Homo sapiens: one gene and its partners. The protein of the gene in region 2 interacts with the protein of the main gene of each other region in a pairwise test. Each region holds a gene or a part of one and is shown on either strand. Other genes may lie near its edges.

Evidence for each region.
Region 1: the proteins of MEGF10 (region 2) and AARS2 interact in a two-hybrid assay, tested with the Homo sapiens proteins (one large-scale study listed by IntAct).
Region 3: the proteins of MEGF10 (region 2) and SCAPER interact in a two-hybrid assay, tested with the Homo sapiens proteins (one large-scale study listed by IntAct).
Region 4: the proteins of MEGF10 (region 2) and SHTN1 interact in a two-hybrid assay, tested with the Homo sapiens proteins (one large-scale study listed by IntAct).
Region 5: the proteins of MEGF10 (region 2) and ZNFX1 interact in a two-hybrid assay, tested with the Homo sapiens proteins (one large-scale study listed by IntAct).
Region 6: the proteins of MEGF10 (region 2) and MCF2L2 interact in a two-hybrid assay, tested with the Homo sapiens proteins (one large-scale study listed by IntAct).
Region 7: the proteins of MEGF10 (region 2) and HSPA12A interact in a two-hybrid assay, tested with the Homo sapiens proteins (one large-scale study listed by IntAct).

Annotation. Positions count from the first base shown.
Region 1 is NC_000006.12:44,306,848-44,310,347, forward strand, and holds part of AARS2 (alanine--tRNA ligase, mitochondrial), read right to left. Parts: coding exon 3,452-3,500; intron 595-3,451; exon of another isoform or gene 548-594; coding exon 402-547; exon of another isoform or gene 387-401; intron 229-386; exon of another isoform or gene 185-228; coding exon 76-184; intron 1-75. UniProt on the Homo sapiens protein: Catalyzes the attachment of alanine to tRNA(Ala) in a two-step reaction: alanine is first activated by ATP to form Ala-AMP and then transferred to the acceptor end of tRNA(Ala). Also edits incorrectly charged tRNA(Ala) via its editing domain.
Region 2 is NC_000005.10:127,458,259-127,461,722, forward strand, and holds the end of MEGF10 (multiple epidermal growth factor-like domains protein 10 isoform a precursor), read left to right. Parts: 3' UTR 1-2,964; downstream 2,965-3,464. UniProt on the Homo sapiens protein: Membrane receptor involved in phagocytosis by macrophages and astrocytes of apoptotic cells. Receptor for C1q, an eat-me signal, that binds phosphatidylserine expressed on the surface of apoptotic cells. Cooperates with ABCA1 within the process of engulfment.
Region 3 is NC_000015.10:76,769,341-76,772,840, forward strand, and holds part of SCAPER (S phase cyclin A-associated protein in the endoplasmic reticulum), read right to left. Parts: intron 2,615-3,500; coding exon 2,402-2,614; coding exon of another isoform or gene 2,384-2,401; intron 1-2,383. UniProt on the Homo sapiens protein: CCNA2/CDK2 regulatory protein that transiently maintains CCNA2 in the cytoplasm.
Region 4 is NC_000010.11:116,925,188-116,928,687, forward strand, and holds part of SHTN1 (shootin-1), read right to left. Parts: intron 2,705-3,500; coding exon 2,605-2,704; intron 1-2,604. UniProt on the Homo sapiens protein: Involved in the generation of internal asymmetric signals required for neuronal polarization and neurite outgrowth.
Region 5 is NC_000020.11:49,261,058-49,264,557, reverse strand, and holds part of ZNFX1 (NFX1-type zinc finger-containing protein 1), read left to right. Parts: intron 1-1,074; coding exon 1,075-1,224; intron 1,225-3,500.
Region 6 is NC_000003.12:183,425,820-183,429,815, forward strand, and holds the start of MCF2L2 (probable guanine nucleotide exchange factor MCF2L2), read right to left. Parts: upstream 2,801-3,996; 5' UTR 2,159-2,800; coding exon 2,083-2,158; intron 1-2,082. UniProt on the Homo sapiens protein: Probably functions as a guanine nucleotide exchange factor.
Region 7 is NC_000010.11:116,680,067-116,683,566, forward strand, and holds part of HSPA12A (heat shock 70 kDa protein 12A), read right to left. Parts: intron 1,812-3,500; coding exon 1,725-1,811; intron 1,191-1,724; coding exon 1,086-1,190; intron 1-1,085. UniProt on the Homo sapiens protein: Adapter protein for SORL1, but not SORT1. Delays SORL1 internalization and affects SORL1 subcellular localization.

The DNA of each region.
Region 1 (3,500 bases), on a different chromosome or scaffold from region 2:
CACTGTCTAGGCTCAGTGGTAGGCTCCCCAAAGTGCCCAGGGAGGCCCAGAGTGAAAAAGAAGCTCTGTCCTTACCAGTGTCTCCACCACTACAGGTACCAGGCTGCCTAGGAAGCCAGGTGGTGCCTTTAAGATCTCCATGGAGAAACGCACAGCTCGACGCAGGATCCGACGAAGAACCAGCCTAAAGGGGTTCAGAGCCCAGACATGAATCCCCAGCGGCTCATGGTCAGCAATATGGGGAGTGGGAAGGACGAGGTCCAGTGTGTGCTCCCACCTCAAAGCTCTCCCTCTCCCCATTCCTCCTACTGGCTCAACCAGACCCACCTCTCCTGTTCCCTCCCTCCTCCACCTGAGACCCCCAGCAGCCCCTGTCCTCTCTGTAGCCCTTCCAGACTCACGGGGGACCTGACATCCCAGGGAAGATGCCATCAGAGATGCAGACACTGAGTGTGCGGATGTGGTCAGCCACCACGCGGTACGCTGTGTCTGTGCGCCCCTCGTCTGCCACCCCTACTCGGCCCAAGTAAGGGGGTGCCCTGCAGCCCTGGGAAGCAGAAGAGTCAGCCAGTGGCCCTGCCTGACCTGGCCCAGGTGGGTGCTCTTTATCGCCTCTAGAGCATCTGCCCTCAGCCCTAAAGCCAACCACATCCAGAATGGCCTTGCCAGTCCAGTCCTGGGCTGAGAAGCCTCACAGATGAGCACAAGCCAGGCCCTGCCCTCACGGGGCTCATATTTGGTGCTACAAGTGAACATATCTGTGACCATTTACTGAATTTCTACTATCAGAACTGGGTGAGTACTTGAACAACATGGCCTCGAATCCCCAAAACAGCCCATTCCAGGAGGTATTAGCATGCTTGCTTTAAAGAAGAAGAAGCTGAGGCTCAGAGGAACTCAGTGACACAAGGCTACCCAGCTCTCAAGGAGCAGATCTGAGATCTCAGCCGGGCCTGTTGGACTCCAGGTGCTCTCCACTACCTGTTCTTGCCTCTCCCATCTTTTGTGGGGGTGGGCAGGGAGGGAGAGTGTAAGCTACATACACGGAAATGCTCCAAAGCAGGGAGCTTGATTCACTTACCACCAAACCTCTCTCTTCCCCAAGCTTCTTCGTCTAACAGTCATGCCATTCACTGTGTTGCTCAAGTCAATAGCCTGGGAGCCATCTTTGAATTCTTTTTCCCCTACCCGTCATGATCCATCAGTGGTTCCTTTTGCTCCTACCTCCATGACATCTCTCAAATCAATCTACTTGTCTCTACTTCCACTGCTATTATCCGAAGCATGCCCTGTGGTCCTTGCCTGGACCGATAATAGCCTCCCAACTGATTCCTAAGTTTCTGCTCTCATCTCCCTCCAGCTCATCCTCCACACAGCAACAGGAGTAGCCTTTTAAAAGTGTACATCAGGCTGGGCGCGGTGGCTCACACCTGTAATCTCAACACTTTGGGAGGCTGAGGCGGGTGGATCACCTGAGGTCAGGAGTTTGAGACCAGCCTGGCCAATCCTGGTGAAACCCCATCTGTACTAAAAATACAAAAATTAGTCAGGTGTGTTGGCGGGTGCCTGTAATCCCAGCTACTCTGGAGGCTGAGGCACGAGAATTGCTTGAGCCCCGGAGGCAGAGGTTGCAGTGAGCCGAGATCATGCCACTGCACTCCAGCCTGGACAACAGAGCAAGCAAGACTCTGTCTCAAAAAAAAAAAAGAAGGGTTCTCAGTGGGGAGTGTGGCATGATCTGATGTACACTTTTATTTATTTATTTTTTTTGAGATGAACTCTCACTCTGTTGCCCAGGTTAGAGTGCAGTAGCACGATCTCAGCTTACTGCAACCTCCACCTCCTGGGTTCAAGAGATTCTCCTGCCTCAGCCTCCCAAGTGGCTGGGACTACAGGTGTGTGCCACCATGCCTGGCTGATTTTTCTATTTTTTTAGTAGAGACAGGATTTTGCCATGTTGGCCAGGCTGGTCTCCAACTCCTGACCTCAAGCGATCCGCCCCCCTCTGCCTCCCCAAGTGCTGGGATTACAGGAGTGAGCCACCGTGCCCAGCCCTGAGAACTCTTCTCACCACTCTGAGAATCAAGGCCCCACTTTGGACTTTGAGGCCCACAAGACTGGATTCTGCCTTCTTCTCTGTGAGACTGTTCACAAAAATGGCCCTTTCCTAGGCATATGCCACTTTAAAATGGGACTTTACAGCTGTTTCCCATCAAGGGACAGAATCCATTTCTCCATCCCCTGAATCTCTGCTGGCTTTGTGACTTGCTTTGGCCCATAGAATACAGTGGAAACAACACTGTTCTGAGCCTATGTGTCTGCTCTCTGTCTTGGAACCTTGCTGAGCTGTGATGTGGACAAGCCCAGACTAGCCAGCTAGGTGATGACAGACACATGGTCCAGTCACCCCTACTGCCCCCAAACTGACAGCCAGCCAAGCCCCAGAGGAGCTGCGGCCTCTCAGCTCACCACAGATGGATGAATGAGCTCACACAAGACCAAAGAATGAGCCAGCTAAGCCCAGCCTAAACGCTAGCTCACAGACTCAGGGGGCAGATACATGGTTGTTGGTTAAGCCACAGAGCATTAGGGTGGTTATACAGCAAAAGCCAACTGACACATGTTCCTACTATATCCCATGGGATTCTCCTTTAGCTGGCTGGCCACCTTTTAGTTTTTGGCACATGTCAAGCCCTTTCTTGCGGGGCAAGGAGGGAGGGTATAAGCTACACACATGTGGAAATGCTCCAAAGCAGGGAGCTTGATTCACCTAGCTCCAAACCTCTCTCTTCCCCAAGCTTCTTCATCTCAGTAAACAGTCATGCCATTCACTGTGTTGCTCAAGCCAATAGCCTGGGAGCCATCTTTGATTTCTCTTTCCCCTCCCCATCTAATCCATCAGTACCAAGGCCCTTGGTACCTGCTGTCCCCTCTGCCTGGAAAGAACTTCCTGTAGCTGACTCCTCCTTTGGGGCTCAGCTCAAAGGTCATCTTCTTGGTGAGCCTTCCCCAAGCACCTTATCTAAGATTCCTCTGTACCCCTCCTTCTTCCTAGTTACTTTCACCCATGTTTACTGCCTGTTCACAATCTGTAAGCTATTACCTTGTTCTTTAACACATTTATTGATTGTCTATCTCTCATGCTAGCATATAATCTCCATGATCTCTTTCCTGCTTACTGCTGTGTCTTCTGTACCAAACACAAAGGATTTAACATAAAGTAAGCACTCAACACGTATTTTCTAAATAAATGAAAGAGGCAAGGAGTTAGGAGGAACATCAGGTAATAAGTAATGAATCCTAGTGTCTTGCTTGACGTCTTGGAATTCTTGGTTGGTTATTGTCCTCAGATGCTGAGAACACTCTGAGTTCTCAACAAAGATGGAATGCAATGGGGCTGAGGGCTGTGAAGAGCAGGTTAGAGGGCTTCTGGAAGGGAAGAGGCACTCACCTGCTGTATGGCGTTGAGCAGCGGGGAAAAGAGGTCAGTGTCATAGGTG
Region 2 (3,464 bases):
ATACATGCTGTAATATAGAATTAGTGGAACATTTTGATTAATCTTTCCCTAGAAGTGACTGAAATATTTTTGTGCATATTTGAGAAAGGGAACTTTCCTTTTATTAATTGTCAATTTAGAGAAACTATGCTTAAGCTGGTCTTTTGCATTGCTAATGTGACATGTACCCAACTTTTCATTAATTTGTATTTCCATTTTTAAATTGCATATTCTATGTTTTGTAGTGTTTGGATTGTTAATGAAAAAATATTATATGTTCGTTATTCCTTGTATTATTGCCACTTATCTTTTGCTTGATAAAAATGCGTTGTTCTTTTTTCTTTTGGAGGGACAAGATGAAAATATATAATTTGAATTGATTAAAATTGGTCGTTACTAAAATAGTATAGTAACCACAAGTGATTGGCTTATAAATGAAGTAGAAATGCTTTTTAATATTCCAAAATAGAGTTCCTTTTGATCTGTTGGTGCTGAGCCTTGGTTAAACCAGGGAGAAGGGGAGCAGAAAGGAAACGTTGTTACTGATGAGTACCACAGACTCATCTTAAAAAAAACTCTCATTATGGTGATCATAGAATTGACCATCCAAACTGGGACACTCTTGAGAGTAAATGGAGGGCATTATTAATAATTATCTTGTAATGAACTTAAATCTGGACTGTTCCAGGCAAACCAGACTTATCTTGCAATATGAGAATGCTGACACAATGCAGGAAAGCCAGTTTCCCTTTTGTTGATCTACTTGACCAAGCAAAGGGGCTGAAAAACTGAATAAGGAAACAACTTTATAAGAGAAACAGTGGTCTTCAATCTTTTAAAGACATGAAATCCTATATGGCATTCTGTCTCAGTGAGTCAGTTAACAAATACGTATGTGCAACCCTTCTGCTAGTAGTGCACATAAGTGATTATCCCTGCCAGGTATCGAGTTGGAATATCCAGTTATTTCATGTCACACATCGGCACGTATGATGGTGGTTTGGTCAGATGGATAATACAGCAGACACACTTAGAACACTCACTGCACTGGTGGCTGTTCATTTTGAGGAACTCCAAAGTCAATTCAAGGAAATAAGGAATGACCTGGAACAGGCCTTAGAAACAATTGATTTATTCCAATAGTTAACCACTGGCTGGCTCCCAACTCTAGGTGATAGGCATCTAATTGAGACATGTGTGAGTCAATAGCCATCGGGGTCCTTTTTGGTGAGAAGAAATAAGACATTTTCTCCCTTTTAAAGATCATCTCTTCAGAGCTGCATGGTAAATTTGAATTTCCCCATTGTTCTCTAGAGCTAGGTCAAAAAAACAACTGTTTCTTTTCTTATTCCACTATTAATAAATTGAAAGCTTGCTGTACAAAGGCAACAGCAACTTAAAAAAGAAAATCTGGACAATAGATGTGGACTCCAAGGGGCCACTGCCATCCCTTCCTGTGTGCTCTTTTTGACAAGTAAATCACTCCAGTTAGCTGATGTCCTGAAATGACATTTGTACCTGAGGCAATTCTTATTAGAGCTTACTCAGGACTTTTCAAACATCAGGACACACATAGCAATTTGGATGTTGTAAAACTACGTGTTACATTTGGAGAGGTCTTGTTGAGAAGGCAAAATTTTCTAAATATTTTGATATCAATTTGGGTAAAGAAAGGAATACTTTTGTTAGAATGAGAATTAAAGAGAAAACAAAAGAATCTTGGCAAAATTTTCCCTCTGAAATTACAAACTTTAGGAACTTTTCCAGATGTATCGAATTTAATTTGACATTGATGTCACTCTTCATACCAAGTGAATCTATTCTCATGAACTTTGAACCCATGTTAATTTTGGACCCTATAACTAATTTCCTTTCTGTATCCCATGGTGGTCAAAGCAGTAAAGGAGTTTAGAGATACTTAGCAAATGCCATTCATATAGTATTGTTAGCCAAACTATTATTCCTTCCTTAGAAGTTGATGTATCAGAAAATTTATAAGTTATTTGTATTTATATATAAGTACATCAGAACTTGCCCACATGATAACTCATGTTTGCTTTAATAAGGAAAATATGTTATTTGAGGTTAATTATATGATAGTGAGGAACATTTTACAATTATTTACAGTGTTTGACATTAATTGCTGTCCTATGATACAGTAGTAATGTTAACAGAGAGTTTAATATGTTTAGCATTATCTTTATGGAATTTATATTCACCAATTTCAGGAAAACCAACCATAGAACTTTATAATAGGACAGTTATAACCTGACTGAACCAAATCCATCAGCATAATGACTGTGTGTTCTGAGAAATGCAAACAACTTTATGAAAGTGTGGTCATCTTGACCCCCAAAGAGCCACAGTAGCTGTCAATTATTGAGATTTTTAAATGGTAAATATTGCAAAAGTTAAACAAGGGTACCACAATATCATTTATAATTGATGTCAATATTAGTAGTCCACTTTATGCTTAAAATAAAATCATAAAAAATCAAGTTTTAAGGTTATATTTTTTAAAATAATGAATTTTCTATCTCTAGGCAACATGTCTTTATTATTCAAGCTGAATGTTTAAGAGAGATTTTGGTCTTAAAGGCTTCACATCATGAAAGTGTACATGCATATGCAAGTGTGAATTACGTGGTATGGATGTTTGCTTGTTTATTAACTAAAGATGTACAGCAAACTGCCCGTTTAGAGTCCTGTTAATATTGATGTCCTAACACTGGGTCTGCTTATGCTAGTTCAGTATTTGGTCTAGGCTTCATTTTGATATGACTGAATTGCAATCTATATTTTTAAAAAGAAAAATCAAAATACATTAGGGTTTACTTGGTTGTGGCAAACAAACAAAAAATGCTTTCAGTGTTGAAATATCTCTATTTTCCAAAGATGATAAACTTTCATCGTTCTTAGCCTACATTGTCATTTATATCACCAAATGAGTTTATAGATTAATGCAATAAACTTTCTAATAAAAAACTCTAGTGTTTCTTTCTATATCTGATTCTACTGTTGATTAATGAGAGAAAAAACCTTGTGCTCGTATGGAAAAAATAATATTTTTTCTTGTTCTTGAAGGACAGAGGCAACATTTTATTCATATTTGGATCCCTGGAACTCAGGTTAGGGGCTGATAGTCAAGTCTTCTGTAACTAGCTTTAGGTTATCTTATGTGGATTTGCTTTCTAAATCTCAGTGCCCATTAGTACTTTCATTTATGACTAAAACATCTTTGAAACATTTGCATTATAGCACTGCGGAGCAGGGATCAAACATGAGTAAAACATTGTTTCTTCTTTCAATAGCTGTTTCTTTACTGGGGCCCTGAATGCCAAGCACAGCTGGGGATGCAGAGACGTGTAAGGCATGAGCTGTTTTGGAGTCCTTCATTATTTAGTTAGGGAAATAAAGCATATGGCTGGCTGTGTGACTGGTTCTGTGGGTTAAGTTAGCCTCTTAAGGCCTTGGCTTCTATATTG
Region 3 (3,500 bases), on a different chromosome or scaffold from region 2:
GCTGAGGCAGGAGAATGGCGTGAACCTGGGAGGTGGAGCTTGCAGTGAGCCAAGACTGCACTACTGCACTCTGGCCTGGGGGACACAGTGAGACTCTGTCTCAAAAAAAAAAAAAAAAAAAAAGAGAGTGAAAGAAAAAAACAACCCCATCAAAAAGTGGGCAAAGGATATGAACAGACATTTCTCAAAAGAAGACATTTGTGCAGCCAACAGACACATGAAAAAATTTTCATCATCCTGCTCATCAGAGAAATGCAAATCAAAACCACATAAGATACCATCTCACACCAGTTAGAACGGCGATCATTAAAAAGTCAGGAAACAACAGATGCTGGAGAGGATGTGGAGAAATAGGAATGCTTTTACACTGTTGGTGGGAGTGTAAATTAGTTCAACTATTGTGGAAGACTTGGTGGGAGTGTAAATTAGTTCAACTATTGTGGAAGACAGTGTGGTGATTCCTTAAGGATCTAGAACTAGAAATACCATTTGACCCAGCGATCCCATTACTGGGCATATACCCAAAGGATTATAAATCATTCTACGATAAAGACACACGCACACGTATGTTTATTGCAGCACTATTCACAATAGTAAAGACTTGGAACCAACCCAAATGTCCATCAATGATAGACTGGATTAAGAAAATGTGGCACATATATACCAGGGAATACTATGCAGCCATAAAAAAGGATGAGTTCATGTCCTTTGCAGGGACATGGATGAAGCTGGAAACCATCATTCTAAGCAAACTATCACAAGGACAGAAAACCAAACACCACATGTTCTGACTCATAGGTGGGAGTTGAACAATGAGAACACATGGACACAGGGCGGGGAACATCACATACCTGGGCTGGTCAGGGGGTGGGGGGCTGGGGGAGGGATAGCATTAGGAAAAATACCTAAAGTAAATGACGAGTTGATGGGTGCAGCAAACCAACATGGCACATGTATACCTATGTAACAAACCTGTACATTGTGCACATGTACCCTAGAATTTAAAGTATAATTTTAAAAAAAAAAGAAAGAAAAGAAAAAACAGTTGTCTCATCACTACAGGAATTCTCTGTAACTCTCCACTTGGGAACTAAACAATAAGGTGCTTATCACCTTATCACCCTTGGTTTGTCAAAACAAAACAAAAAGTATTCTTAACACCTCTAAGAATACACTAATATCCACATTAAAGCAGAATTTATTTTCTTTCAAGTATGCAAATTTGACCCTCAAAATAACCAAAAGGGTTTATGACTCTGCAAGTTTATATATGTGATGAAAATAAAAATAATGAGGTCAGAATTTTTAATTATTTCATGCTTATTTAAGGATGAGAGTTTTCCTCTTTTAAAATTTGATTCTCACAGAATCAAACTGAAAAATATACAATTTGATATACAACTGCTAAAACAAAATAAATGACCAAATTCCACCCCATACAATAAACTCACTACTTATTTGAGCATAATTATGTTCAACATTTAGAAATGTTCATTACTAAAAGACACAAGATGAAAATCAATTGTTCTACCTTATTAAAAGAATCTAAACATTTGTTTTTTGTATTACTATAACCTTTTCCTTTTTACCCTTAAACAACCAATATCAAGTTTCATCTCTACTGTTATTATCCCTATAAAATGTATAATTTTACCTAATACCATGTGTTGTTAAGATCTGTCAGCATTAGGCATTAAATTTTAGAAGAAATTATAGTCCACAGCAGCCTTTAAAAAGTAAAAATTAAGTAATTTTTCACAGCTTTTTATATGTGCCTATTTCTTTGGAAAGCTAGTTTTTAAACAAAGTTAGCATGATTTATTCTGGATTATCCCCAGGTCAAGTATCCTAATACTAAAATGAGCAAAAGGAAGAGATGGGTAGAAATATGTTATCATCCAAAACCATAAATCTATAAATAATCACAAATCAATGCATTTTTAGAGATTCTGGAATAGGGATGGTAAATAAATTTCATCTTAAAGACCAACTCCAAGCAAATGATAGTGGCTGTCTAAAGTACTCTGTTAAGAAAGTTTTTAAAACTAAGTCTAGCAGACACCATTTCCCATCTATCAGAATGCTAGATGTAGCATAGAAGACTTTATTGTTACTAGTTTAGATTCTTAATTCTGGGCTAAGAGCATTTGATCAAATCACATACAAACCAAATGATTTTGAACAAGTCACTTAACTCTCACAATCTCACTTTCTTCCTCTAAAAAATAAGAATCTTAACTATATCAAAAGTTTACCAAAATAATAAAATGTTAAAATGAAATAAATATATAAAAATGCTTTAAAAAGTATAAATCATACAAGTTATTATTATTGGGGTTTATGCTTCTTAAATATACTCAGAATTCTGATAAGTTGTTCTTACCAAGTTAGCAGCACTCACATTTGAAATATCTGAAGGGTCCATTTCATTTTCTATCCTTGCTTTCTCTGCTGGAAATTTTTCTTCATTTACTTGTAAAGGAGGTGTACCAGCTTGCAGCATAACTGAAACACACTCTGTATCAATGTGGACAGCAGATATTTCAGAAGTTCGAACATAATTGTCTCGAATACTGCCAGAATTCTTCACATCATCCAATGTACTCACTGTGAACTAACAAAACGTAGAGAATGAATCAGAGATAATTAAAAAATACCAACTATTCCACTTTAGAAGAAGAGATGATTTTGCTTAACCTATTAACTATGAAGAAGAAGAGGTACTTGACTGGATGACAGAAAATTTACTCATCTTTTTTGTATGTTTCAAGTGTAACAAAAGGACAGGGACCATTAAGCACAAATTTTACTTGCATGCCTACTATGTACTGGGCACTATCCAAAGTTTTCTAAGAAATTAAGCAATTTATATTGTAATTTTCTTGTAGTAGGCCAATTTGTGATGAGTATTTTGTATCCTTCGCAAATGAAATCTAGTCACAAGTATGAGGCATTCATTCACTGTATTATACTCATACAACCAAAAGTATTTACATGGTCTTTTGCAAAGACTGTCTAATATCAAATGAGGACATTCAGTACTTTTGAAAAAATCCTGAAACCAATTTTTACAACAATATATTTGGAGGGCATTTTACACAAAAATATAAAACTTATTCTCTTCAGATAATATTAACATGATCTCAAAGTATCTTTGTTAAAAATTCATATGGTACATGAACCCAATTCTCCGATCTGAAAGAGAAAAGCATGACCTAAGGGTGAAGATTGAAAGCATGTAGTGTCTCATTATGACATTCATACACTTTAGATTTAGATATCTTCCCTATTGTCCTTTAGGAATATTTAATAACAAACCAACAGAAATGTAAATACAATATAAAAAGCAAACAGTGGCTTAGGCTAAATACATACCCATTTTTTAAAAACCTTCCAATTTAGCAGAGTCAAGCCTTTATTTTTACTTTGGACAGAGAAGAGAAACAATAGTACTGTGTTTTCCAATGATACTCTAAGTCAAAGAACTAAAATCTAAAATT
Region 4 (3,500 bases), on a different chromosome or scaffold from region 2:
GTGGATGACATTAACATTTCAATCAGTAGACTGAGTAAAGCAGATGGTCCTCCCTGAGGTGGGTGGCCCTCAGCCAATCATTTGAAGGCCTAATTAGAACAACAAGGCTGATCCTCCCTCAACTAACAGGGAATTCCTCCTGCCTGACTGCCTTCTAACTGGGTTATTGGCTTTTTCTTGCTTTCGAACTTGAACTGAAACACTGCCACTTCCTGGGTCTTGAGCCTGTCAAACTTTGGAATAAAACTACACCATAGGTTCTCCCAGTTCTCAGGCCCTTAGACTCAGCCTGGAACCACACCATTGACACTTTTGGGTGTCCAAGTTGCCAACTCACCCTACAGATCTTGGGGTTTGACAGCCTCCATAATCACATGAGCCAACTCCTTATAATAAATCTGTATTTATATCTGCCTATATCTGTATCTATAGATATACACATTCTATTGGTTCTGTTTCTCTAAAAAAAGCACTTAATAGCCTCAACCCTCTCCCCATGAACTATATCTGCATAGAACCTGTCCTACTTTCACTACCACTGGGACAAAGTGACCAAGGTTTGCCTTCTTCCTCTTTCTTCTATCTATTCTTGGAGTCAAATGAGTGGGAAGAGAAGGGAAAAGCAGTAAGCCACTTAAGCTACAGGCCCTAGTCTTTTTTTTTCTTCCCACTTTCATTTCTAACCATGATTTACATCAGGATAAAACAAATAGATCAGGAACAAAGTTAGAAAACTTTGATTTGTGAATTCAAAATCCACTCAAACTCAATACATGTGCAAATATACCTCTTTGACAAGAAAGCACTCCTCACAAAAAAAAAACTCTTTTCTTTAAAAAATTATGTCCTATACTATTTAAATTCATCTTAAAATAAAAATCATATTATTCAATAAAATTTTCTTTAAAGAGCCTTATAAAAGAGTTCACACTTGAGACACAAATAGTCCTGAACATTCGTTTCTCAGCGTAACTGTAAAGTGCTCTTTGGGAAAAAAAATTCTACTTAGGTTATACTTTACTTTTAATTCTAGGGGCTCTCAACATTTCTGAGAATAAAAATTAAAGGCCAACAGCAAGACTGTAATTACTTTTTAATCGTTCTCCCTCTTCATGGACAGAAGTGACCTTTCTTATCAGCTCAAAATCCCAGACCTTAGAGAAAGATCAAAGTGATGAATTTCCAATTTTAAATGTCAAATCCAGAATATCTCCTACAGATTTAGCTACCCAGGAGAGAAAGATTTTAAAATACCTGAAATTCTTTCAATTGACTCTTGGATCGATCACGTGTAAAAATTATTTTGCCTTAACTACTTCAATGGCTTAAAGTAGATTATGTCATACCCTACTCAGTAAGGAAAACTAATGAGAATCTTTTTAAAAGGCAAAGTCCCATTTTCATAGTTGTGTGGGAGGAACATGCTACGCATTCTATTCAGATGGATCAGCAAAGGTGCAAAGTATGAATAAATGGCCTCTCTGTGTGAAAGGATTAAACAAATCACATGAGTTAATGAAAGGTTTAAAAAAAAAAAAAACCCTAGAAAAAGTTTTAAAATGCCATTTGTTAAAGAATAAATTATACAAAAGCAGCTAACATCATGACATGAGCATGTAAGCTGTCACCATGGCAAGGAGGTTGTCTTATGTAATTCTAGATGGTGGCATGTGGAACCACAAAAAAGGCAAAATTTGACTCTAAATCTCCTAGTGTGTATTGTGCTCAAGTGATGTACATAATGCCATCATGTCACCTTAGGCTTCAGAAAATACGAATTCCTGTCTGCATATGTGACTTCCTGCCACAAGAATTTAAACATAATCTATCTTTCTTATGGACGGTTCCTCTCTTAGCATTACTAAAGGTATAAATATGAGGTTAGGGATAAAAGTAATTAATACTTCTAGTTTAATTACTAGTTTATAACAATTAGCATGTTTACGTTTTCATTTAGTATTTTTATTTTTAAAATAATTGAACAAACCACAGCTTTTCAAATTTGAATTAGCAAGACAGAAAAGTAAACACATTCTGGAAAAGCTCAAAATTCCTTGTTCTTACCATTAAAGGAAATCTTAATGTTATTGAATGAAATTTGTATACTACAAGAAGGGAATAATATATTGGCTTGTTAGGCCATTCTCATGCTGCTAATAAAGATATACCCGAGACTCGGTAATTATAAAGGAAAGAGGTTTAATTGACTCACAGTTCCACATGGCTGGGGAGGCCTCACAATCATGGCGGAAGGCAAGGAGAAGCAAGTCACATCTTACATGGCAGCAGGGAAGAGAGAACTTGTGCAGGAGAACTCCTCTTTATAAAACCATCAGATCTCATGAGATTCACTATCATGAGAATAGCATGGAAAGACCCACCCTCATGATTCAATTACCTCCCACGATACGTGAGAATTGTGGGAGCTACAATTCAAGAGGAAATTTGGGTGGGGACACAACCAAACCATATCACTGGCCTTTAGAAAAATTTCCAAGAGAAGCATCAGCTAGTATCTTTCATGCTTTTAAGATGACTCCTCTTATGGCACAATCTGATGGAGAAGAACATTTGATGCAGAGCAGTCTTCCTGGATGTGCTTACCGGATAGGATTGGGAGGTGGAGGGGGAAGTGGTGGTGGAGGAGGAGGTGGTGGAGGTACTGAATTCTCAGACTGGTTCACTCGTTTCTGGAGTTCATCAACTGCACAGAGAGCAAACATTCAGAAGAGAGCTGAAATAAGCAACTAAACATTGTTTATACATGTGAAAAAAAGAACATAACCTTTCTCAAAAGTAAGTTCTTTTTATTAAGGCAAAATTAGAAATTTCAATATGAAATTACAGACCTTTTTAAACTTTTCACTATCTAGTCTATTGCTAATGCAAGAGAGGACTCCTATCCATCAATATTAAATGTTATCTTTTTGCTGTATATACAACTTTAGAAAAGAAAAAAATTAAAAACAATGGCTGAAGGGTAGGAAGGAGTAGGCTGAAGAAATATTTGTTAACAACGAAGTATATGACTCAAACACTAAGAAATTGTTAATACTTTAAAAGTGTACAGACCAAGAATTAATTTTAAAGATGACATTTAGTAATGAAATTTAATAGCTGCATACTTCTCTCCCCTGCTTAATTTCCTTCAAAAACTGCAAATACTAGAGTCTTTGATTTTAACCAGATTCAGCTTCCTAAATCTGTAACTCAGAAACTTTTTGCTCTTTTGAAGAGATTTCTGGAAATGTATCGTATTCCTTCAAGTCTTTCATGAGGAAGGCATTTTACTAAGCACCAATGATGTGAAAGTGCCTATGAATGGTGCTACAGGAGACGTAACACCTGACTTCAAAGAACTGAACTTAAGTTGATATCACAGGTGCTAATACCTATGAGATAATGGGTAAAAGGTGCTGCATACTGTTGGCACTCAGAGGTAGCTCTCCCCATCCACAGCCATTCCACTTTCCCCGACTGAGTGTACCCTCAGGGATCTG
Region 5 (3,500 bases), on a different chromosome or scaffold from region 2:
ATGACCTTTGCCTTCACAATCCAAGATGGAGAAAAGACAAGGAAACACTGCCCATCCCCACCCTACCTTAACGCTCCTTCCCCCATACCACCCACAGCACCTCTGTGTACAGCCAACTGACCAGGGAAATGTCATCTTTTAGCTGGGCAGCAATGTGCCCAGTCAAAAATCTGAGTTCTTATTACTAAGGAAAAGAGAGAGAACAGATATTGTGAGCCTTGAAGTCTCTCCCACAGTATTCTTGGCCTGTTTGTTTTTCTGTTGTGTAGGTTGAGCATCTCAAATTGGAAAATCCAAATCCAAAACTTTCTGAGTGCCAACATTATTTCTTTTTTTGAGACAGGGTCTTGCTCAGTCACCCAGGCTGGAGTGCAGTGGCACAATCTCGGCTCACTGCAACCTCCACCTCCTAGGTTCAAGCGATTCTCTTGCCTCAGCCTCCTGAGTAGCTGGGATTACAGGCGCCCGCCATCACACCTGGCTAATTTTTGTATTTTTAGTAGAGACAAGATTTCACCATGTTGGCCAGGCTGGTCTCGATCTCTTGACCTCATGGTCCACCCGCCTCGGCCTCCCAAAGTGCTGGGATTACAGGCGTGAGCCACCGCGCCCGGCCCAACATTATTTCACATTTTGGATTTCCAGATTTGCAATGCTCAACCAGTAAGTATAAACGCAAATATTCCAAAATCTGAAACACTTCTAGTCCCAAGCATTTTGGATAAGGGATATTCAACCTGCCACCACGCCTGGCTAATTTTTGCATTTTTAGTAGAGACAGTGTTTTGCCATGTTGGCCAGGCTGGTCTTGAACTACAGACCTCAAGTGATCCACCTGCCTTGGCCTCCTAAAATGCTGGTATTACAGGCATGAGCCACCACACTCAACCGATACTAGTTCTTTGGTTTCAAGACCACAATAATGTGCCTTGGGAAATTGGTTTGTTGACCAGTCTATTTATTTATTCTCCCTCCTTACTGTTCCTGTCTTAGCTTTGCTTTCCCTCAAGGTGAGGACTGAGTTTGGGGGATGATGATATTTCCTCATCATTTCTTTCCCTCTGTTCTTGGAAGATCATGACACAGATGAAGGAGTCAGAGCAAGAGCTTCATGAAGGAGCCAAGACCCTGGAGTGCACCATGCGTGGTGTCCTACGGGAACAGTACCTGCAGAAGTACATCTCACCCCAGCACTGGGAAAGTCTCATGAATGGACCAGTGCAGGTAGGGGTCATCCTGGGGGACACAAATATGTCTCTGGCCTCAGTACTTTGAGGTAGCCTCCAGGAGAAGCATCAGTCCAAAACTTTACCTGTTTGATAATCTGATGCTGCCACAATGTGTAAAGTTCCCTTTTGTGATGAGAGGCAGCTGAATATGCTGGTCAGGAACAAAACTCGAACCAGCCTGTTGGGTTTTAGTCTGAGCTTGGCTCTGGACAAGTTACTTAATTTTCTGTGGCTGTTTCCCCTTTTATAAAATGGGGATAATAATAAGCATTAAGTTGAACCATATGAAATTGCCAACATCTGTAATATTGATTTGCAAAAAAGGCAATTTCTTACAGATCTTTGTTCTTACAGGATTGTTATTTAGATGAGCAAGGTGATATTTGTAAACTTATTAATTTAGTAACTGTACTATAAGTGTTTGTTAAATGAAATGAAGAAAATCATAACCAGAGGCAAACTAGCACAGATAGAGAACTTGGGAGTTGATAGATATAGTCATGCAGACTGACTGTGTGACTTGGGTTCATGTGATCCTCAGCAATCAAACATGGATAATAATAATGCCTACCTTCAAAAGATATGGTAAGAAATAACTGAGACAGTCTCTGTAAAGTGGCAGGCTAGGAACCCAGTGAAATGGTAGCTTTGTTACCATTAGGTTGCTGATTTACAGGATTACAAACCAAAAGCTTACAGAGGTCATTCAGGTCTTACAAATAAGTGAAGCAATCTAGATTTGAAATATTAAGAAGCGGAGAGGACTGTGGCAAACTAGAACAGATGTGGTAGCAACCCAGCTCCAGCCATTTGTTGCCATTCAGTAATAAACAGTCATTGCTGCCATAGCTCCTGATTTTGTCAAAATAGGCTGGAAAATTTTTTTAATTCTTTTTTTTTTTTCTTCTTTTTTTTTTTTTTGAGACAGAGTTCTCACTCTCTCACCCCAGGCTGCAGTGCAATGGCGCGATCTTGGCTTACTACAACCTCCGCCTCCCGGGTTCAAGCGATTCTCTTACCTTGGCCTCTTGAGTAGCTAGGATTACAGGCACCTGCCATCATGCCTGGCTAATTTTTGTAGAGACAGGGTTTCACCACATTCGCCAGGCTGGTCTTGAACTCCTGACCTCAGGTGACCCGCCCACCTCGGCTCTCCAAAGTGCTGGGATTATAGGCATGAGCCACCGTGCCCAGCCCTTTGATTTTTAAAATTCTATACAAGTCATGTTAAATGTTCCAGTTGCCCAAGGAGATGCCAGTTCACAGCCTCTGAACTTTTTTTTTTTTTAACAATATGATGTTTCTTTTTTAATTTTTTTTTTAACTTTTAAGTTCAGGGGTACGTGTGCAGGTTTGTTACGTAGGTAAACTTGTGTCATGAGGCCAAGCGCGCAGTGGCTCACGCCTGTAATCCCAGCACTTTGGGAGGCCGAGGCAGGCGGATCACGAGGTCAGGAGATTGAGACCATCCTGGCTAACACGCTGAAACCCCGTCTCTACTAAAAAAATAAAAAAATTAGCCGGGCATGGTGGCGGGCGCCTGTAGTCCCAGCTACTCAGGAGGCTGAGGCAGGAGAATGGTGTGAACCTGGGAGGCAGAGCTTGCAGTGAGCCGAGATCGTGCCACTGCACTCCAGCCTGGGCGACAGAGCAAGACTGTCTCAAAAAAAAAAAAAAAAACTTGTGTCATGGCGGTTTGTTGTACATCACCTAGATATTAAGCCTAGTACTCATCAGTTATTTTTCCTGCTCCTCTCCCTCCTCCCATCCTCCACCCTTCAATAGGCCCCAGTGTGTTGATCCCCTCTATGTGACCATGTGTTCTCATCATTTAACTTATAAGTGAGAACATGCAGTATTTGGTTTTCTGTTCTTGTGTTAGTTTGCTAAAGATAATGCCCTCAAACTCCATTCAGGTCCTCGCAAAGGACATGATCTCATTCTTTTTTATGGCTGCATAGTATTCCATGGTATATATGTACCACGTTTTCTTTATCCAGTCCTTCATTGATGCGCATTTAGGTTGATTAGATGTCTTTGCTGTTGTGAATAGTACAGCCTATAAACTTTAAGGGAATTACTTTTGATTCTTTTTTCTTTTGAGATAGGGTCTTGAGCCCAGGCTGGAGGGCAGTGGCATAATCATAGCTCACTGCAGCCTCGGCCTCCTGGGCTCAAGCAGTCCTCCCACCTCAGCCTCCTGGGTAACTGGGATTATATGTGCATGCCATCACACCCAGCTTTTTTGAGACAGAATCTTGCTTTTGTCAC
Region 6 (3,996 bases), on a different chromosome or scaffold from region 2:
TGGCACATGCCTGTAATCCCAGCTACTCGGGAGGCTGAGGTAGGAGAATCGCTTGAACCCGGGAGGCGGAGGTTGCAGTGAGTCGAGATCACACCATTGCACTCCAGCCTGGGCAACAAGAGCGAAACTCCATCTCAAAAAAAAAAACAAAAAAGATGATCCTCTCTGAGTCAATTCCTTCATTTGTAAAATAGGGGTAGTAATGAGTACCCCACCCATTTCACAGGTTTTATTAGATTAAGTATGAGGAGACAGAATCTTGCAAAGCACACAAAAGCCAAGGGTCATTAGAGGTTGAAAGGAGAAACTACAACAAATTCCTATGTGTATCCTGCATGGAGCTGTCTATAGAAGGAGGGAGGGAGCAAGGTAGGCAAGAAAATACCATAGCCTGGGCGCCACAGGCAGCTAAGTGTTAGTCAAGGAATACTGCCTGCCAGATTTTCAAGAAGAGCCTGCTCCAGAGAAATAGGAGGGACCTTTAAAATCATCCAGGTCAACCCCTCGTTTAACAGATGGGAGGCTTCGCCCTGAGAGAGGCCCAGTAACCCACCAAAGATCTTTAGTGGCGTGACAGAGGGACCAGGGATATGTCTAATAACTGAAATGTCTGTATAATCACAGTGTACACAGTATTTCTACCCAAATTATCTTACTTATCTTCACAAGTAGCCTTTGAGCTGAGTGGGAAAGTACTATTAAAATTCCTATTTTTCAACCTGAGGTCGAATGACTTGTCCAGGGAAAGATTCAAATCCAGACGGTCACACCCCGAGTCCACTGCTCTTTCTCTATACCACAACTTCATGCCTGTGCTGGGTTTTAGCACAATCATTTCAACTTTCATCATATTGCAGATTCCGAATTCTGTTTCATTACAAGTTCTTTTTCCTCTTATTTCACACTGCCTTCAGCAATATTTCACATTCAACCTTACCTGGTAGGATCCTACTGATCTTTTGTCGTAAAAGTTCAGTGCCCACAATTGGCACCAGAAACTTTTTTCTAAACTTGAATTATCAAAACTGGGCCTTCCCATATAAATCATCTTTACAAAGTATGTCCTCACAAGTGTATCATTTGAGATGTGCACGATTATTACAGCAAACACGTTGGACTAATTGAGGCAACATTTAACATGCAAGTACCAAGAAAGCAGCTTTCACAAATGTGTAGAAAACCAAGGCAAATAGTTCCTGGCTTTATCAATAAAAGCTGATTTGCATTCATGGGAGGACCTCCAAGCACAGTCAGCAACAGAGAAAATGATCCCGATAATTCCAGTTGCCCACATCCAGAGGTTCTGAACCTGAATGTGTGTCTTTACTGAGGGAGGTCCAGGGAAGGCCAAGGGGAAGAAAGTGCTAAGAAAAAACTGACTGGGAACTGTCTCAATGTCCTCTTGCCCTTACTTAGTCTGTGGGGCCTGACGTTCCATCACAACCCTTATTTCAGGAGCAAGCAATGCATGTTTTGCTCCTCTTTTCAACTCAGGGAAGAAGATTAAAATTGCTCAGTCTCCTTGGCTTGCAGAGATTTCTCGCGGGGATCATCAGGGGTGTGCTTAACCCTCCAGGCAGCACAGTAAAACAGGCCTAGCGGCCGAGCTGCGCAGGGGCGCTCCCATGTAACCTGCCTCTCCCTGCACTTTCTTATAAACAAGCCTTCAGTGGCGTGGCAATCATTTCTGCTGAAAAGCACTGGCATTCGTTCCTCTTATGCCCTCTCCTTTCTCACTATCCCCAAAACCAGAACATAACTTCCCACCCACCCTACTCCCGTCAGAAGCAGCTAACGGATGGTAACAGCCCAGCAGCCCTCGGTTTGGAGCTCAACGGACTCGGCAACCACCTGGTGAAGGCACCAGCCTCGGCCCCCCGACCCCCACCAGCGGCGCGCCCCAGGGATGCCCCCCGCTGGGCACCGCAGGCAGGACCCAGAGCAGCGAGGCCCAGATGCCGGGCAACCCCCCAGGAAGCGCGCTGCCCCGGGGCAGCGGGTGAGGCCAGGAGCCAGATGAAGCCCAGAGACCATCCTCACCCGCCATTAATAAAACGCAGGAAAAATTAAAGCTTCGTTTACCGACATGAGTGATCACTGTGGCCAGTCGCCGGGTGAGCTCCTGGGGAGGCATCTCTTCTTTTAAGCAAGACAGCATTTCACTGAAAAACCATTCCGTATAAATAAAGCCAAACAAAACTGTTTCTACCGCTGCGGTGGATGATTTTTTAAAGGCATCTCCGCCCAAGGATGCTCTGCCCTCGCCCTCTTCCTGGCTCTCCAGGCAAGAAACGAGAGTCCCTCGCAGCCTAGGCCAGCTCTCCCTCGCCACGCCCCGCGGGGGCTCCCGTGACAGACCAAGTCTGGCGCTTTCCCAGCGTCGCAGCTGGACCGAGAGAGGAGCGGCCGTTCTGCAAAAGGAAGCAAGTCGCCAATCTCGCCGGAACCGCGCCCCGGCTCCTCCGGCCGGGCGAGCTCCGGGGCTTCCAGAATCGCGGTCCCGGCCGCCAGGTTTCCGGCGCCGCCTCCAGGGACTGTAGAGTGAGGGATGCTCCGCCAGGTGCAGGGGAGGCGGCAGGTGGCCGTGGCTTCTCTGCGCCGCCGGCCCCACGCCCCAGCGCCCACCTCGTCCAGCCCACGGGTGGCGCCCGGGGCTCTCGGGGAGGCACGCACGCTCCCAAGCGCCGCTCGTTTTGGGGTCGGGAACGCTGCGCACCTTTCCCTGCGGGGAGCCCGCGCTCCACCCCCGGAGTGGAGCTCCGGTCCTTACTCGGAACCGTGGGGCGGGGAGACAGTGACTGAGGCGCTCCAGTCGCACCGGGGTCCGGATCATCAGACGCGCGCCGGCCAGGTCTCCGCCCCTCCTTCTTCCGCGCCGGGTGTCTGCGGAGGAGCCGCGGAGAGAAGGGGGCTGGCCCGGAGAGCTGCCGCCATCCGGCAGGACCCGGAGCGGGAGGCTGGGTGAGGCGCCGCTGCTTGCCCCACCTCCTGACCCCGGGGGCGGCTGGCGTGTGTTTTCCCCCACTTGGGGTTGTTCCACGCAGTTCTTGACCTCCGCTGGCCACACCTGCACTGGGAGCCCGGCGCCCGGGCTGCGCTCCGACAAGGCTGAGCACGCGTGGGCGCGCTCACCCCCTATGTGGGCGTTTTCCTTCGTGCAGCTGCGCCCTTGCCTCTGCTCCGTCTGTCACCTGTCAGGCACGCCAGTGCTACCTTCTGGAGGGGCTGTGGCACATCCTCCATGCTGGTCCTCCTCCCCATCAGCCCATTATCCCGTGGTTTCCCTAGTTGGGCCCAGACACTTTCTGACTGGCAGCAAAAGACTAACCCCAGTTCAGCAGAGCGCTACGGGAAACGCCTGAGCAAATGCGAATTCGGTCAGGTTGTCCCCCAATCCTTTCTACAGCGGGAGTCCCTGAATACTCAGCAGGCGGAATGGCGGGACCACCCAGGCGGATGTTCTCAGCCATCTCTTTCCTCTTCGATATGTAAAAAGCCAAGCCGCAAACACCCTGGATCCAAATTCTAGGAGTAGCCACCCATCACAGGGGGCTGAGGGTATTTTTTTAATGCTTTCTCTTTTCTTCTTTTTTTTGGAGACTGAGTCTGGCTCTGTCGCCCAGGCTGGAGTGCAATGGCGCGATCTCAGCTCACTGCAAGCTCCGCCTCCCGGGTTCACGCCATTCTCCTGCCTCAGCCTCCCGAGTAGCTGGGACTACAGGCGCCCGCCACCACGCCCGGCTAATTTTTTGTATTTTTTAGTAGAGATGGGGTTTGTTTCACCGTGTTAGCCAAGGATGGTCTCGATCTCCTGACCTCGTGATCCGCCCACCTTGGCCTCCCAAAGTGCTGGGATTACAGGCGTGAGCCACCGCGCCCAGCCCTTTTTAATGCTTTCTCTAACAATTGTGGGCTGTGATTGAGAAGCGAGGTCAGTTCACCTGTGTCATGAGATTTGTGGAGAGGTTCTTCCCCCTGTGAAGTTTGGGCACTTTG
Region 7 (3,500 bases), on a different chromosome or scaffold from region 2:
TGCAATCTCCGCCTCCTGGGTTGAAGTGATTCTCCTGCTTCAGCCTCCCGAGTAGCTGAGATACAGGCACGCACCACCATGCCCGGCTAATTTTTGTATTTTTAGTAGAGATGGGATTTTGCCATGTTGGCCAGGCTGGTCTCAAACTCCTGACCTCAGGTGATCCACCTGCCTTGGCCTCTCAAAGTTCTGGGATTACAGGCATGAGCCACCACTCCCAGCCAACAATCTATTTTAAATCAATTACATTTTTTAAAAAATCAATAATTTTATCTAACTAGGACCATTATGGTATTCCAATCCAAGACATCCAAGGGCGGGGGCTGGAAAATCAGCAGGCCTGGTCTAGTCCCTGTGTGATCCTCTAATTACTTATTATCCTTTCCCCTCCAACCTCCCAAAAGGGAAACAGCATGTTCTTTGGTTTAGCAATCTTTTTTTGAGAGTCTCGCTCTGTCACCCAAGTTGGAGTGCAGTGGCGCAATGTCTGCTCACTGCAACCTCTGCCTCCTGGGTTCAAGCAATTCTCCTGCCTCAGCCACCTGAGTAGCTGGGGCTACAGGTGTGCACCACCACGCCCAGCTAATTTTTGTATTTTTAGTAGAGACAGGGTTTCATCATGTTGGCCATGCTGGTCTCCAACTCCTGACCTCAAGTGATCTGCCTGCTTGGCCTCCCAAAGTGCTGGGATTACAGGCGTGAGCCACCGCACTTGGCCAATGGTTTGGCAATCTTGATCCAAGACAAGGTGAGGCCTCCCTAGAAAGTTCACCTTAGCACGGTCATGGGCAACATCAAGTTGCAATCTCATCCTTTCGGAATTTTCAGAAACCAGCGCCCTTGGCCAGGATCTGAAACAGGCTCGCTTTAGGCCAAAACCCAAGTTGTGGTGGTTTGTGTTTTAAAGAATGTTTAATTGCATTTTGCTTTCCAATTTCAAGCAGACATTAGTATCCTCCACCGCCTACGATCCCACATGTTAGTGGCATTCAAGAGAATAAAACTGAGAGTTATCTGAAACAAGTGAAAACAGAACTGCCTGGAATTGGCTCAGGAATAAGAAAATTAGCCCTGCAGGGCCTCACCTGTTGCTTTATACAGTTCCTTAAGGTGTCCCTCCGGTAACCGGATCTGATGGACTGTCAGGTCTACGGTGCCACCGCCACTGTCCACAACCACATACTTATCACCTGGCACAAAAACAGCCATCTTTTACACAGACTGTTTGCCAACCCCATCTGAAACAAGCTTGTGGGTGGTAACTAGGTAGACCCAGCTAAGTGCCCTCAAAACTTCTCATTAGCACAATGGTTTTGCTAATTAGCAGCTCTAGGAGTTAACCATGACCAAAGAGAATGCAATCTGCCCAGGAGGATGGTTAGACATGGACGATGGAGAACCCAGGTGAGTGAATCTAAGATTCACACATTGCTGCATACCTGGCACGTACTTAGTGGGCAGTTTCCTGCCACGTGAATAGTGAGTGCCCTAAAATCATCTGCGTTTCACCAAAGACTTACTCTGGAACTGATCAATTCCAATCCCTACCTGGTTTTACAACATGCAAAATTACAGCTCCCAAAAGAGCTCTCCCTGCATGAGTGGTCTTTAGAACCCACTGAGTTTGAACATTTTCCAAAAGTGCAAAAGGGACAAATGGGAATGGCTTTTCACGAGCAGCACAGGAAAATCCAGCAAGAGCAAAGGACATTGAAGGACGCTACCTTCCTCCAGCTCGGACCAGATTTCTCCTATGACATTCTCCACCAAAAAGGTCCGACTCTGCCGATTACGCCGTATGTGTTCCTTAGCTAGTGGCCGACAGAAAGAAAATGATGACGGGTAAGAAAGCATGAAAAAGCAGAGATCATTTGCAGTCAGTGAAGGCAATAGCATGAGGAGATTTAGGGATGGAACATTAGTGACATTTGACCAAAATAAGTCAATACGATGTCGGGAATCACAAAGCCAGCTCTTCCCAGAGAAAGTGATTTCCACCGGCCTTCCTCTATTCCTCGGCTTAGCCTGTGCCCAGCTGAAAAGCCCACCCTGATGAGATTCTCACAACAACCCTTGGAATTAGGTGGAATTATTATCCCCATTTTCCACGTGAAAAAAACTGAAAGAAGAGAATGTGGTCAAATGTGCGCCACTGCACTCCAACTTGGGTGACAGAGCGAGACTCTCAAATGAGACCTACCCTGGTCACATTTTTTGGAGAATGGGTTAATGAAATCGCCTAGTTTCCCGGCTTTGCTGCCCCAGGGAGGAAGCTATCTGCCAAACAGCCTGCAGTGCGCTCAGTTAAACAATTCCAAATCAAGGAATTTTGTCTGATACAAGGAATTTGGGGTGTGTTTTCCTAACATGCACCCTGGGTAAATAGACTGGGGGGGGGGGCCATTTCCTGACCCAGCTGAAGCCAATATGCATTGCGGCCACAAGGTGGCGCGTCTGGGCCTGGCAAACCCCTGTGCTGCCTTTTCCATGAACACAGGGACAACCTCCGCTCCTGCTGTGGCTTGAGGTGCTGAGTGGCGGAGACGCCTATGTGGCTATGAGAGGGCACAAATCATTGTCCCTATGTTCGGAGAAGGAAATCAGGTCAGGAAAGGTTAAGGGGCTTGCAGTTCCCACAATTTTTTTTTCTTTGAGACGGAGTCTCGCTCTGTCTCCCAGGCTGGAGTGCAGTGGTGCGATCTCGGCTCACTGCAAGCTCCGCCTCCCGGGTTCACGCCATTCTCCTGCCTCAGCCTCCCAAGTAGCTGGGACTACAGGCACCCGCCACCTCGCCCGGCTAATTTTTTTTTTTTTTTTTTTTTGTATTTTTAGTAGAGACGGGGTTTCACCGTGGTCTGGATTTCCTGACCTCGTGATCCGCCTGCCTCGGCCTCCCAAAGTGCTGGGATTACAGGTGTAAGCCACCACGCCCGGCCCCACAATTCTTTTCTTGCAGCCTGAAATTAACCCTTAGACCTTAGGCCCTCGTGCCTTTGAGATTTAACAACAGTGCCCGGCGCCACCCCCATAGTGCTCTCACTTAGCGCTCATATTGGTGCCTTGACCCTGACAGGGCGTGTCTGCAAACCCTATAGCCCTCGACACACCCACAGAGCCCTGGATACCAGGGAACCAAGTTCTGTGACCAAGGCTATGACCTACTTGCATTCAGGTAATTATTAAAGAGGAAAAGCTTTTTAAAATCGCCATCCTCAGTCTCCCTAAGGCGGTGCTCCTTCCCACAGCTAAGCGAGCGTCACCTAGGTCAGGAAAAGTCAGCCGGTTTCATCTGCATTTTAAACTCATCGCACATGAAGCAGACCCAATGAGTGACTCAGCAATAAATCAACAGTCTTAATGGAGAATTAATAACAGGCAATGGAATTAGATTAAGAATCTGTTAATACACAAGAAAGATTAAGAGCCTAGTACAATGTGAGGCCAATAACCGCTCTCAGGCTACCCTCAGATTCTTAGAGAGAAGCTCCCCGCCCCCAGAC